Regions from separate parts of the Homo sapiens genome. Here region 2 is linked to region 1. The links come from fine-mapping of genetic effects on gene expression. Tissue or cell type: whole blood. Region 1 holds a variant in brackets; the other region holds the start of a gene. All regions are shown on one strand. Distances are between the middles of the regions.

What was found. PIP is the estimated chance that this variant, and not a neighbour inherited with it, causes the effect.
Region 2: it holds the start of GZMH, and the variant in region 1 is fine-mapped to the expression of GZMH in whole blood (INTERVAL, PIP above 0.99).

The regions. Positions count from the first base shown.
Region 1 is chr14:24,646,500-24,654,607 of GRCh38, forward strand. No RefSeq gene overlaps it. Among named protein-coding and RNA genes, the nearest start is that of GZMB, 16 kb to the left of the region's middle. The variant C/T (reference allele first, on the strand shown) is at 4,239.
Region 2 is chr14:24,606,173-24,614,280 of GRCh38, forward strand. It overlaps GZMH (granzyme H), which reads right to left and starts at 3,513. Exons shown (of 5, transcript NM_033423.5): 1 at 3,387-3,513; 2 at 2,093-2,240; 3 at 1,440-1,575; 4 at 977-1,234; 5 at 308-574. The coding sequence starts at 3,441. The coding sequence ends at 431. RefSeq lists an enhancer at 1-94.

The DNA of each region.
Region 1 (8,108 bases):
ATCTGAGGAAGCCATCACATAAAGAGTCTCTATAACCAAGGAGCTCATACAGAATCTTCACCCCTGAAAGCACTCAGAGCCAAATTAGGTTATGATAACTTATAAACATTAAAGTCACATCCTCAAGGGGAAAAAAAGAAACAAACAACAACAAAAAACACAGTCAAATAAAAAGTGAGCCAGAAATAAATTAAAAAATAATTAGAAGAAATAGACTACCCAAAAGAGAAGAAAACAGAAAAATAATTCTGGCAATGTGACAGAACAGCATTCTACAACAACTTCAAAAGATCACAGCCACTCTCCAGAAATGGATCCAAACCAAGATGAAATCTTTGAAATACCACCAGCCTGGCCAACATGGTGAGACTCCATTTCTACTAAAAATCCAAAAAAAAAAAAAAAAAAAAAGAAAGAAAAATTAGCCGGGTATGGTGGCTTGCACCTGTAGTCCTAGCTACTCGAGAGGCTGAGTAAGGAGGATTGCTTGAACCTGGGAGGCAGGGGTTGCAGTCAGCTGAGATCACACCACTGCACTCTAGCCTGGGTGACAGAGTGAGACTCCATTTCAAAAAAAAAATTCTTTGAAATACTAGATAAAGAATTGAAAAGGTTGATTATTAAGTTACTCAGGGAGATACAAGAGAAAGGTGAAAAACAATATAAAGAAATGAGAATATCAATTTATAATATGAGTGAAAAATTTTCTAAAGAGGTAGATATTTTAAGGAAAAACCAGTTGGAACTTCCAGAAATGAAAAATATATTTAGAGAATTACAAAATGCAGTGGAATTACAAAACACAGTGGAATGTTTTAACAATAGACTAAACCAAGTAGAAGAAAAAATTTAAAAGACAAGGCTTTAAAATTAACCTAATCAGGCAAAAATAAATAAAAAAATTCAAAGAAATGAACAAAGTCTACAATAAATATGGGATTATGTAAAATGGCTAAACCTAAGAATGGCTGGTGTCCCTGAGGGAGAAGAAAATGCAAAAAGTTTGGGAAATTTATTCGAAGAAATAATTGAAGAAAACTTCCATGGCCTTGCTAGAGATTTAGTCATCCAAATACAAGAAATCCAAAGAACTTCTGGGAGATTTATTGCAAAAAGGACATTACAAAGGCATATAGTCATCAGCCTATCTAAATTTAATGGGAAGGAAATATTTTTAAGAGCAGGGAGAAAAAGGCATCAGGTAACCTATAAAGGAAAGCCTATCAGACTTCTCCGCAGAAACCTTACAAGCTAGAAGGGACTGGGGTCCTATCTTTAGCCTCCTTAAACAGAATAACTGTCAGCCAAGAGTTTTGTATCCAGCAAAATTATGTTTTATAAATAAAGGAGAAATACAATATTTTTTAGACAAGCAAATGCTAAGGGAATTTGTTACTACAAGGCCAGCCCTAAAAGCAATGCTAAAAGGAATTCTAAATCTTGAAACAAAAGGTTGATATGCACCAGAATAGAACCTTTTGAAAGTATAAAACTCACAGGGTCTATAAAACAATAACACCTGTTCACGCTGATGACAGTTTTTTTTGCTGTGCAGAAGCTCTTTAGTTTAATTAGATCCAAGTTGTCAATTTTGGCTTTTGTTGCCATTGCTTGTGGTGGTTTAGTCATGAAGTCTTTGCCCATGCCTATGTCCTAAATGGTATTGCCTAGGTTTTCTTCTAGGGTTATTATGGTTTTAGGACTTACGTTTAAGTCTTTAATCCATCTTGAGTTAATTTTTGTATAAGGTGTAAGGAAGTGGTCCAGTTTCAGTTTTCTGCATATGGCTAGCCAGTTTTCCCAACATCATTTATTAAATATCATCAGAGTGAACAGGCAACCTACAGAATGGGAGAAAATTTTTGCTATCTATCCATCTGATAAAGGGCTAATATCCAGAATCTACAAGGAACTTAAAGAAATTTACAAGAAAAAAACAAACAACCCCATCAAAAAGTGGGCAAAGGATATGAACAGACACTTCTCAAAAGAAGACATTTAAGTGGCCAACAAACATATGAAAAAAAACTCATCACTGTTCATTAGAAAAATGCAAATCAAAACCACAATGATATAACATCTCATGCCAGTTAGAATGGTGATCATTAAAAAGTCAGGAAACAACAGATGCTGGAGAGGATGTGGAGAAATAGGAATGCTCTTACACTGTTGGTGGGAGTGTAAAGTAGTTCAACCATTGTGGAAGACAGTGCAGCGATTCCTCAAGGATCTAGAACCAAAAATACCATTTGACCTAACAATCCCATTACTGGGTATACACCCAAAGGATTATAAATCATTCTACTGTAAAGACATGCACATGTATGTTTATTGCAGCACTATTCACAATAGCAAAGACTTGGAATCAACCCAAATGCCATCAAAGATAGACTGGATAAAGAAAATGTGGCACATATACCCCATGGAATACTATGCAGCCATAAAAAGTGATGAGTTCATGTACTTTGCAGGGACATGGATGAAGCTGGAAACCATCATTTTCAGTGAACTAACACAGGAACAGAAAACCAAATACCACATGTTCTCACACTTAAGTGGGAGTTGAACAATGGCAACACATGGACACAGGGAGGGGAGCATCACACACCAGGGCCTGTCAGTGGGTGGGGATCTAAGGGAGGGATAGCATTAGGACAAATACCTAATGTAGATGACAGATTGATGGGTGCAGCAAACCACCATGGGACATGTATACCTATGTAACAAATCTGCATGCTCTGGATGTGTATCCCAGAACTTAAAGTAAAAAACAAAAAACAAAAAACAATAACACCATGAAGAAAACAAAGTAACTAGGTAACAATCAATATGATGGTGAGGACAGTACTTCACATCTCAATATTAACACTGAAAGTAAATGGTCTAAATGCTCTACTTAAAAGATATGGATTGGCATAATGGATAAAAAAATTACAAACCAAATATCTTCTGTTTTCCAGGGATACATATAACACATAAGGATTCTTATAGACTCAAGGCAAAGGGGTGGAAAAAGATATTCCATGCAAATGAAAATCAAAACTAAGCAGGAGTAACCATTCTTATATCAGATAAAAGAGACTTTTAAACAACAACAGTAAAAAAAAGACAAAGAAGGTCATTATATAATGATAAAAGGATCAATCCAACAAGAAGATATTACCATCTTAAATATATATGCACCTAATTCTGGAGCTCCCACATTCATAAAACAATTGTTACTAGACCCAAGAAAAGAGATAACAGCAACACAATAATAGTGGGGGACTTCAACACTCCACTGATAGCACTAGACAGAACATCAAGACAGAAAGTCAACCAAAGACACTGGACTTAAATTGCACTCTAGAACAAATGGACCTAACAGATATTTACAGAACATTTTCCCCAAGAGCTACAGAATATACATTCTTCTCATCAGCGCATGGAACATCCTCTAAGATAGACCATATAGTAGGCCACAAAACATGTCTCAATAAATTAAAAACCATCAAAATCATATCACGTATCTTCTCAGACCACATTGGAATAAAAACTAGAAATCAATTCCAAAAAGGAACCCTCAAAACTATACAAATACATGGAAATTAAACAATCTTCTCCTAAATAATTTTGGGGTTAACAATGAAATCAAGATGGAAATTAAAAAATTATTTTAAATGAATGATAATGTGACACAATTCATCAAAATCTGTGGGATACAGCAGAAGCAGTGCTAAGAAGAAAGTTATAGCACTAAATGGTTTTATCAAAAAGTCTGAAAGTAGCAAATTGACAACCAAATGTTACACTTCAAGGAACTAGAGAAACAAGAAAAAATGAAACCCAAAGCTAGAAGAAGAAAATCAATAGCAAAGATCAGAGTAGAACTAAATGAAATTTGAAGCCAAAAATCCATACAAAAGGTCAATGAAACAAAAAGTTGGTTCTTTGAAAAGATAAACAAAATCGATAGATCATTAGCTAGACTAACCAAGAAAAGAAGAGTGAAGATTCAACTAAGCTCAATTTGAAATGAAAATAGAGACATTACAACCAACACCACAGAAATAGAAAAGATCATTCGAGATTGCTATGAACACCTCTATGTACATGTCTAGAGGAAATAGATAAATATCTGGAAACATACAACCCTCCTAGCTTGAATCAGGAAGAAACAGAAATTCTGAACAGACCAATAACAAGTGGTGAAATAGAATCAGTAATAAAAAAATTGCCAAGAACAACAAAAACAACAA[C/T]AAAAAACTCAGAGCCAGTGGATTCACAGCTGAATTCTACCAGCCATTCAAAGAAAAATTGGTACCAGTCCTACTGAAACTATTCCAAAAGATTGAGAAGAGGGAATCACCCCAAATTATTCTATGAAGCCAGTATCATCCTGATACCAAAGCCAGGAAAGGACATAACAACAAAAAAAGAAAACTACAGACCCATATCCCTGATTAACATACATGTAAAAATTCTGAATAAAATATTAGCAAACTAAATCCAACAGAAAATCGAAAAGATATGTCATCCCAGGGATGTAGGGATGGTTCAACATACTCAAGTCAATAAATGTGATTCATCACATAAACATAATCAAATACAAAAACTACACGATCATTTCAATCAACACAGAAAAAGCATTTGATAAAATTCAGCATTGCTTTATGATAAAACTCTCAACAAACTAGGCATAGAAAGAACATACTTCAAAATAATAAAAGCCATATATGGCATACCCACAGCCATCTCATATTGAACCGGAAAAAGTTGAAAGCATTCCCCCTAAGAACTGGAAGAAGACAAGGATGCCCACTTTCACCACTTCTATTCAACATAGTACTGGAAGTCCTAGCCAGAGCAATGTGGCAAGAGAAAGAAATAAAAGGGCATCCAAATTGGAAAAGAGGAAGTCAAACTATCTGTGTTTGCCAGTGGTGTTATTGCATGCCTAGAAAACCCTAAAAATTCCTACAAAAGACTCCGAGATTTGGTAAATGAATTCAAAAAGTCTCAGCTTGCAAAATCAATGTACCCAAATGAGTAGCACTGATACACACAAACAATGACTAAGTTGAATCAAACGAAGAACTTGATCCCTTTTAAGATGCCTGCAAGAAAAAAGGAAAAAATCCAACTCTCTAGGAATATACTTAACCAAGGATGTGAAATATTTCCGTGAGGAGAAGTATAGAACACTGCTGAAGGAAATCATAGATGACACAAACAAATGGAAATACATCTCATGCTCATGAATTGGAAGAATCAATATCATTAAAATGACCATACTGCCCAAGGCAATCTACAGATACAATGCAATTCCTATCAAAATACCAACATTGTTTTTCATGAAATTAGAAAAAAAATTAAAATTCATATGAAACCAAAAAAAGAGCCTGAATAGCCAAAACAATCCTAAGCAAAAAGAACAAGTCTGGAAGCATCACATTACCTGATTTCATGTTATACTACAAAGATATAGTAACCAAAACAGCAGAGTACTGTTATAAAAGTAGGTACATAGAGCAATGGAACTGCATAGAGAATCCAGAAATAAAGCCAAATACTTACAATCAACTTATCTTCAAGAAAGCATACAAAAACATGAACTGGGGAAAGGACACCCTATTCAATAAATGGTGCTGGGAAAACTGGCTAACCACATGTGGAAAAATGAAACTGGATCCCTATCTCTGACCATATACAAAAGTCAACTCAAGGTGGATTACAGACTTAAGTCTAAGACTTGAAATCATAAAAATTCTAGAAGAAAACCCAGGAAAAACTCTTCTGGACATTGGCCTAAGCAAATAATTTATGACTAAGACCTCAAAAGCAAATGCAACAAAAACAAACATAAAGAAATCTAATCTAATTAAACTAAAAAGCCTCCACACAGCAAAAGAAATAATCATTACGGTGAACAAAATGGGAGAAAATATTTGCAAACTATGCATCTGACAAAGGACCAATATCCAGAAACTACAAGGAATTCAAACAAATCAGCAAGAAAAAACAAATAATCCTATCAAAAAGTGGGCAAATGACATGAACAGACATTTCTCTAAAGAAGATATATAAATGGCCAACAAACATAGGAAAAAATTCTCAACATCACTAACCATGAAGGAAATGCAAATTAAAACCACAACTTGATACCACCTTACCCCAGCTAGAATTGCCATTATTAAAACGTCAAAATATAACAGATGTTGGCATGGATGTGATGAAAGGGGAATGCTTATACGCTGCTGGTGGGAAGGTAAATTAGTACACTCTATGGAAAACAGTATGAAGATTCCTGAAAGAACTAAAAACAGTTCTACCATTTGACTTAGCAATCCCACTACTGGGTATCTACCCAAAGGAAAATAAGTCATTATATGAAAAAGACACGTGCACACATATGTTTATTGCAGCACAATTCACAACTGCAGAAACATAGAACCAACCTAAGTGCCCATTGGACCATGACTGGATAAATAAAATGTGGTGTATATACACTATGAAATACCACTCATCCATAAAAGGAATGAAATAATGTCTTTTGCAGCAACTTGGATGGAATTGGAGGCCATTTTTCCAAGTGAAGTAACTTAGGAATGGAAAGCCAAATACCATATATTTTCACTTATAAGTGGGAGTCAAACTATGGGTACACAAAGGCATAAAGAGTGGTATAATGGACATTGGAGACTCAGAAGAGAGGAAGGTGGCAGTTGAGTGATAGATAAAAAACTATATATTGGGTACAAAGTACATTACTTGAGTGACTGATACACTAAAATCTGACTTCATTACTATACAGTTCATCCATGTAACCAAAAACCACTTGTACCCCTAAAGCTATTGAAATTTAAAAATAAAGGAAGGAAAGAAGGAGAAAGCAAGAAAGCAAGCAAGAAAGCAAGAAAAGCAAGAAAGCAAGCAAGCAAGCAAGCAAGCAAGCAAGCAAGCAAGCAAGCAAGAAAGAAAATAGTGCTGTGATAAACTTGAGGGTACAGGTATCCCTTTGATATACTGATTTCCTTTCCATTGGATACATACCCAGTAGTGGGATTGCTGGACCTTATAGTAGTTCTAGTTTTAGTTTTATTTAGAAACCTCCATACTGTTTTCCATAATGGTTGTACTAACTTACATTCCCACTAACAGTGTGTAAAAGTTTCCTTTTCCCTCATCCTTGCAGCATTTGTTATTTTTTATCTTTTTGATAATAGCCATTCTAAGTGAAGTGAGATGACATCTCATTGTGGTTTTGATTTGCATTTCCCTGATGGCTAGTGATGCTGAGCATTTTTAAATACATGTATTGGCCACTTGTATGTCTTTTATAGTGAAAAATGTCTATTCAGATACCTTGCACATTTAAAACATCAAATTATTAGTTTTTTTTTTTTTTTGCTGTTGAGTTCCTTGTATATACTGGACATTTGTTCCTTATTGGATGCATAGTTTGCAAATATTTTCTTCCGTTCTATAGGTTGCCTTTTCTCTCTTGATTGTTTTCTTTGTTGTGTAAAAGCTTTGTAGTTTGATATAGTCCCATTGTCTAGTTTTTTATTGCTTGTGCTTTTGAAGTCCTACTCATAAAATCTTTGACTAGACCAATGCCCTGAAGAGATTTCCCTATGTATTGTTCTAGTAGTTTTACAGTTTTTGGTCTTTCATTTAAGTCTTTAATCCACTTTCCTTTGATTTTTGAGAGATAGGGGTCTAGTTTCGTTCTTCTGCATATGGATACCCAGATTTCCCGGCATCATTTATTGAAGGGGATGTCCTTTTCTCAGTGTATGTTCTTGGTGCCTTTGCTGAAAATCAGTTGGCTCTAAATTCTTATACTTAATTTGAGGTTCTCTATTCTGTTCCACTGGCCTATGTGTCTGGTTTGTTTATTGATACATAATAATTGTATACATGTAATATTTTGATCCATGCATACAATATATAATGATCAAATCAGGGTAATTGATCACTATAATCACCTCAAACATTTATCACTTCTTTGTGTTGACAACATTCCAAATCTTCCTTTCTAGTTATTTTGATATATAAAATAAATTATTGATAACTACAGTCACTGTATTGTGCTCATACAGTAGAAATTATTCCTAATATTTTAC
Region 2 (8,108 bases), 40 kb before region 1:
GGAGTAGGTAGTTGGTTTAGAGACGATAAGAAATTCCTAACGTCCAGAGAGGTTTATTTTTTTTTGTGAAGGGAGAGGGGTGAAGATTGTTTGTTTATAATGGAGTTCAAACCAGCTCTAACAGAGGGTTCAGTATCAAAGACATGTGATTGAGAAATTAGTGAAAAAACTGTACAGCATGGGGTTTAGGGAGGAGGGAGGGCTGGGGGAGAAAGGAAGAAGCAAAAGCCAGAACTGACAGCAGACGGCTGCCTGGAGCAGTGTTGTTGCATATTGAAGATGGTTCAGTGAATAAATAAGACTTCAGTCATATTTACACCAGAGATCCATTTATTACAGTCCTGCAACCCCGACTGCCCACCCCTTGGGGATTCTTGCCTCTGTCCCAGAGATGGTCAGGCCCAGAGGAAGGTTAGTCTCATGCCTGCTGTTAGAGGCGCTTCATTGTTCTCTTTATCCAGGGCAGGAAGTGTGAGACCTTGATGTAGACTCCTGGAGGTGTCCCTTTTTTGTTTCCATAGGAGAGAATACCTTGGGCTACGTCCTTACACACGAGGGGCCCCCCGGAGTCCCCCTGTGAACAGAGAGAGGAAAGACTGAGCTAGTGTTCCCTGGGATGGGTGGTCTCTGTTATGGATTTTGTGTGACATCAGTGCCAGGCAGGCCTTGTCACTCACCTCCCTCAGTCCTGGGTCTCCAGCATGGCCCTGGCTGTGCTTTCTGGCTCTCCCCAGACCAAGCCTTTCTCTGCAATTCTCACGGACACTTTGGTGATAAGTGACTGTCGGATGACAGATCCTTCCCCTCCAGCCACCCCAGTCCACCCAAGGAGTGGACTAAAGACTAGATTCCAGGGGGACACAGGCTGCCCAAGCTCTGGGCTGAGAGCATAAAGATCTGGCCACTGTCATACCCCAGAACTCCCTCAAGTTCCTCTCTCCCTGTGGTCTTTCTGGGTAGAGGCTGGAAACCCAACCTTGAAACCGGTCTGTGTCTTCTTTGGATCCCCCACACAAATCTCAGTGGCTCTGCTGTAATTGCCATGGAAGAGACGTTCACACTGGCAGTCCTTCTGCACTGTCAGCAACACTTCCTGCAGTGTGGTTGCTAAAGTGCTCATTGAGACATAACCCCAGCCAGCCACACTGCACAGCTGCCCTGGCTTCACCTGGGCCTTGCTGCTAGGTAGCCTGAGAGGCCGCACAGCTGTGGTCCACTTGGCCTTTCTCTCCAGCTGGTGGGGAAGAAGCAAGAAAGTCCAGGTCAGGCAATGGCCTTCTGGGCCCCGACACAGTGATGGGGCTGCACAATCTTCCCTCTCCTCTAAGGCACAGGAACTGACCAAGAGGTCAGGATGGAAAGGAGGAAAGGGCCGGCATCCCAGTGGGAGTGGAACCAACTGGACCAAGAAGAGCAAGAGTGGCAGGAGTGTGCCTCACCTGCAGTAGCATGATGTCGTTGGAGAAGTTCTTAGGATTATAGGCTGGATGGGGGATGGGTCTTTTCACAGGGATAAACTGCTGGGTCCGCTCCTGTTCCTTGATATTGTGGGCCCCCAAGGTGACATTTATGGAGCTGCACAGAGAGCAGAGTGAGGATGGGGGTGGAGTCACAGGGGATAGAGCCCAGGAGCAGTGAAGAGCAGATGACAGCTGTGGCAGGGTAGGGCTGCAGCTGAGGGGAAGTTGAAGGGACAGGAGGGCTCCAGGGCTGAGTGACTGTGCCCTCTACTTCACAAAGACATGAAGAGTAGGGCTTCTGGGGGCTCTCTCTTGCCTTCAGGAAATATCATGAAATTGCTCGAGTTTGCATTTTGATCCTTAATGCATGGATTCAACCTTTACTACTGCCTTATTGGGCCAGTGTGTGAAACCATGCCACTTGCTCTGACCTCTGACCCTCTGACCCTCTGACCCTGTCCTATTTCTCAGCCTTTCATCATCTTAGTCCTATTCCCAGGTGGCTGCTCCGATGAGCTTTCATGGGCTTGTGTTACCAGGAACTCTGGAAGCTCCCCTGGGCTGCAGTCCCCAGGAGAAAACAAGGGTCCCTGTAGGGGGAACTCAGGAGGTGAGCTGGTGCTGCTCCTTACCTTCCCTGGCAGTGAGCAGCTGTCAGCACAAAGTCCTTTCTCACTAGGATGCCGCCACACCTCTTCCGACTCTTCTCTTGCAGAAACTGAACAAAGGCCATGTAGGGGCGGGAGTGGGGCTTGGCCTCATGGCCCCCGATGATCTCCTCTGAAAGGAAAGACTGGAAGATAAAGTAGCTGGGGATGGCTGCAGTCAGGAGAGAAGGCTTAGGACGACAGTGATTGAGGGTGAAGTGTTTTGTGTGCTGCAGACAGTGAGGGAGGGGTCCTCCTGAGCTCTGCAGGCAGTACTCCTTGCAGGCAGAGCAAGCTTTTCTGAACTTTAAGTCTCAGAACCTTCTCTCAGAAAGAATGGACAGTGCTTGACTTCTGCATCCTACTGCAGAAACACACATGGAGGAAGAAAGATCTATTTTCACAGTGGTAGAGCCCCAGAGGATCCTGGACAGGACTTCCCAGGCTCCTCCTTTTTAGTGAGTCTCTCTGATTCCTCTGAGCCTCTGCTGTCCTCCTGATTGGTGCCATTTTCTAATGATCTACCCATGAGCTTCTGGAGTTGGATTTTCTAAAATTCTCATGTGCCAGGGCTGAACACATTCTAGGTTCTCAGTAAGTGTTGTTTGGTGCATAAATGAATAGCCTCCAATTAGCCTTTGGCTGAGGTTTAGTGGGGGTAGTGCTGGTGGGATTCAGGACCTCAGGGATGTTAGAGGGGGTTATCACCAGGTCAGTGGAGTAGCTGAGGGCCTGCAAAGGCAGAAGGAAGTGGAGAAATCAACTAAAAATGAATCGCAAAGCCCAGGTGGAGCCAAGGTAATGGGAGAGCTATGGACACAGTCATCTTGCCATCTCTGAGATCAGTTGCACCATGGGCTTCCCTCCTGGCAGGGGTGACTGGGTGGGGGCACTGAATAAGTGGTTCTTAAGCTGAGTCCAGTAACAACTCCTATGACTGCAACTTGGTGTCTGAGCTCCTCTTTCCTGGGTTGGAGTGTAGAGTAATAATTACTTATCTTTTTTAGCTTCACATTCCCTACCAAATGCCTTTCTAAGAACAATCCACACTCCAGGTCATAAAGGAGAGGTCTAGGGAGAGGCTAACACCCATTAAACCTTTTAGGGAACACCCTTCATTTTTCGATCTTTGCTGAGTGTCTATCTAGCCTCAGATTTATAAGTCTGGGTGTGGAATGGGAGGTGGGCTCAGATTGAGGAAAATTCCTGACCAGTGCTCATGGGTACAGGGTATCTTATAAGATGGGTTCAGGCCTCTGGAATAGGGATAGTCACTTACCTGTCCCAGCCCCAGGGGTCAGAAGAAAGGCCAACAGGAGGAGGAATGGCTGCATTTTCTCAGGAAGGCTGCCCAGGTCAGAGCTGTTGGTGTTGACTCCTTCCAGAAACAAATGCTGGAGGGAGATGAAGGAGGGATGGGTACAGTAAACTCAGAGACCTCCTAGACTTGTCCCCTTCTGGTTTTGATGGGTGTCATTATAGAAGGTGGTTTATTAAAATTATCTGGTTTGGTTTAAGTTGACATGGCACTGTCACATTTACACCCCTGCTGCTGAGTAACAAGGTGAAAGCAAGAATAAAGAACAAGGAGGTGGAGCTGTTGAAGCTGTGGCTGCAGCTAGCAGAAAGGCTGGTACTGCAGAAGCTCCTCAGTGACTGAGAACCAAGAATGTCTCCTTTTCTCAGTTCTTGGCTCTTTTTCTACTCAGATAAAATCATGAATAATTATTTAGCAAGCCAGATCCAGGGATATGAGAGACATGGCTCTTGCCCTTGAAGAATTGATGGTTAGCAAGAGTAGACTGAAAATCTGGGGTTAGAGCACAAGATGGTAAGGGCCGTGGTGGGGAAATCTGCCTGTTGGTGTGAGACGGAGGCTGGACTTGCCTTAGCAGTATGCAGAGTTGCACACACCCAACAAATACTGCAAATGGCAACCCATTCCTATCTTACCACTATCTCAGATTCATATTTTTGGGATATTTAGAATCCCCTCTTTAAATATAAATATTCTGTGACAAAGATAACTTTTTTTATTCCACAGTTCTGCACAAAAGTTCTGGACTTGATATTTATTGAACCAAAATGAGTCATCATTGGGTCCACTGAAGTGTAGTGGACTGATTGCTTTATGCTTTGGTTATTTAGCCCTCCTTAAGCTGAGGTGGGGACTGTTCCACTCCATCTATGGTGCTTATGAATGAGGAGGGGATTTCCCTTGAGAAATGCTAGTTGTTGTTGCCAGGTGATGGAAAAATGGATGCTGATCATCCTGATAATAATTGTTCACTAAGGCCGGGCGCGGTGGCTCATGCCTGTAATCCTAGCACTTTGGGAGGCCAAGACGGGTGGATCACGAGGTCAGGAGATCGAGACCATCCTGGTTAACATGGTGAAACCCCATCTCTACTAAAAATACAAAAAATTAGCCGGGCGTGGTGGCGGGCTCCTGTAGTTCCAGCTACTTGGGAGGCGGAGGCAGGAGAATGGCGTCAACCCAGGTGGAGCTTGCAGTGAGCTGAGATCGCGCCACTGCACTCCAGCCTGGGTGACAGAGCGAGACTCCATCTCAAAAACAAACAAACAAACAAACAAAAAACTGTCCACTAAGTATTCTCTCAGTTTCCAGAGAGCCATGTCTCTGATGTCCCTTGGCTCACAGTCATAGGCTGTCCATAAACAAAAATGTGTATATATACATATGTTTGTATATTTATGTATATGAATATATATAAATATATATGTATAGTTAAGTAGGAACATGTAAATGATAAAATTAAACTTACCAAAAATTCTACCACCGGAGATCATTATTAATGCTTAAGCATGTTTCCTTCTACTATTTTTCTAGGTATTTATAAGGTGCTATTCCTGCTATTACTTTAACAGAACTGGGATAGGACTTTAGGTGATAGACTTTTTTGTGATGAATTTTCCAGGTGTTCTTTGAGCTTCTTGTATTTGGATGTCTAGGTATCTAGCAAGGACAGGGGAGTTTTCTTCAATTATTTCCTCAAATAAGGTTTTCAAGCTTTTAGATTTCTCTTCTTCCTCAGGAACACCAATTATTCTTAGGTTTGACTGTTTAACATAATCCCACATTTCTTGGAGGCTTTGTTCATTTTTTAAAAATTATTTTTTCTTAGTCTTTGTTTGATTGGGTTAATTTGAAAGCATTGTCTTTGCGCTCTGAAGTTTTTTCTTCCGCTTGTTCTAGTCTAGTGTTGAAACTTTCCAGTGGATTTTGTATTTCTCTAAGCATGGCTTTCATTTCCAGAAGTTGTGATTATTTTTTCTTTATGATATCTATTTCTCTGGGGAATTTTTCACCCATATCCTATATTTATGTATATATATATTTTTTAATTTTTAAAGTTGTTTTTTCACCTTTCTCTGGTATCTCCTTGAGTAGCTTAATGATCTTCTGGATTGTTTATCTGGCAATTCAGAGATTTCTTCTTGGTTTGGATCCATTGCTGGGGAGCTAGTGTGATCTTTTGGAGGTGATATAGAACTCTGTTTTATCATATTACCAGAATTACCTTTCTAGTTCCTTATCATTTGGGTAGACTATTTCAGTGGAAAGGTCTGGAACTCAAGTCCTGCTGTTCAGATTCTATTATCCCATGGGGTGATCCTTTGATGTGGTGCTCTCCCCCTTCCCCTAGGGATGGGACTTTCTGACCACTGGACTGCATTGGCTGTTACTGCTTTTCTGGGTCTAGCCTCCCAGTGGCGCTACCAGGTTCCAGCTGGTGCTGGGGAATGTCTGCAAAGAGTCCTGTGATGTGATCTCTCTTCAGGTCTCCCAGCCATGGATACCATTACCTGCTCTGGTGGAGGTGGAAGGGGAGTGAAGTAGACTCTGTGAGAGTCCTTGGTTGTAGATATGTGTAGTGTGCTGGGTTTCTTGAATGCTGGTTATGCTAGCAGTGAAGTTTTCATGTGGACACACTCAGGACCTCTGTTTAGCCAGGATGTTGCAGGCATTGGAATTAGGTGTTATCTTCTCCTTCCTGGGTTCAGGGTTATTCTGTCATGAGTTGCTGTAATGGCCTGTGTTGTTTGGCCTCCAGCCAAGAAGTGGTGCTTTCAAGAGAGCACCAGCTGCATTGGTAGTAGAGGGATCTAGGTTTGCCCTAAGTTGGCCAGGGTGAGTATTTTGGTTTCTCAGATGATGGGTGGGGCCTGAAAGCTCCCAAGAGTTTCTATCTTTTGTGTTTGGTTACCAGGGTGAGTAAAGAAATACCATCATGTTGGGGCAGGGTTAGGTGGGTCTGGGCTCAGAGTCTCCTTGGGTGGGGTTTGCTGTGGCCACTGTGCGGGATGTGGGGGTGGTTCTTAGGCCAATGGGGTTATTTTCCAGAGGGGATCTTGGCTACCTCTGTTGTGTCATATAATTCACCAGGGAAGTGGCGGAAAGCTGGTAGCGAGAGGTCTCACCCAGCTCCCACACAGTTGGCAAGGCCAGTCTCACTCCCAAAGTGCCCCACTCAGATCTTGCCCAAGGCTGTGAACTTTCCCACTGAGAAAGCAAGCATGGATTTCAGATATCACCCCTCCCCATCTGCCCACTCCAACGGGAGTGGCTTCTTTGCTTCTGAGTTCATGTGCTCATATTGCCAAAGCTCCCACTCGTCCCCTAGACTCCACTAAAGAAAGTTTGTGTCCAATTGAAACCACTACCAATTTCAGTTGGAAGCTTCCTTCACCTGGTGACCCCTCCCCAATTCCACTGGCTGCCTTCCCTGAGAGATCCTGTGAGATATAGTCAGGAATGGCTTCCCTGGGCTCAAGCTGAAGATTGGAAGTGCCTTGCAGTCTTCTGATACTGATACTTCTACTTTTATATTTTGTGTGACTGCCTACATTTGTTTCAGTTCAAGGTAAGGTTAAATTCTCCCTTGATCTGGATTTTCAGATTCCCCAGTGGGGATGTGTGTTCAGAGGCAGGTTTTTTCCCTCTCACACTTTGGGAACTTACAGTTTTTCACCTGTTTTGCAAAATTTGCAGCAGTGTCCTGCTTCTTTCAAAGGGTGTGTGAATTCCTTTGGTTTTCCTGGTGTGTTCCCGTGGTGGTTCTTGGAACAAAAGAACACAGTATGAGTCTTCACATACTGTTGTGTCCATCTAAGTGGGAGTTGCATGTGGGTTTAAAGAAACCTGACTCATGAAGGACTTCCCATTTTTTGTACTGCCATGATCATCAGTGCATTATTACTGTCTCACACTGTTTCTTCATAGTGTCTCTCATCCTTCAGATCTCACCTTTTACTGGTATTATTATGGATCCTAGTAATTTATTTAAAAAACAGCAAAAGCTTAAACTCTCCTCCTTTGAGTCTCATGGGGTTGGAGTGGAGTTGTTGGTTTGGATCCTTGCCCAGGTAGCTTTCAGATCCAGCCCTCATCTTCCTGCTGCTCTTCTCTGTGACACAGTCTACATCACACAGATTTCTCTGTCTGACAGCTCTGTCTTCTTGGACCAAGCCAATGGGTGGTGCTGAAGAATTAGGGTCTTTTTCCTTCCCACTCTTTCTTCTTAGCTTGCGGACTGTTTCAGGATGACTCCTCTGCTCTCCTCCTGGCTCCAGCTCTCACCTGGCAGGCTAGATATGGTTTCATATTCTGCCAGGTGATCAGGGTCCTGGCAACACTGCTTGCTCCCTCCATGCCTCCAGCTAGGTGTGGTAGTGGCTTCCTGCTATTGCTAATCTCTCGGTTGATTCATTTTACCCTCTTTGGCTCCTGTCATGTAATCAGTTCCCTGGAATAAACTCCTTTTGTTTGCAAATATTTGGAGTGGTTTCTGTCTTCTTGGACCCTGACTAAGACACTCTGGGGTATTAATTTCTTAGTGCTGTTATAACAAAGTATTACAAACTGCTGGCAGCAGGCAACAGAAATTGATTCTTTCACTGTTCTGGAGGCCAGAAGCCTGAAATCAAGGTATCAGCAGAGTTGGTTCTTTCTGGAAGTGTCTGGCAAAGTCTGTCCCAT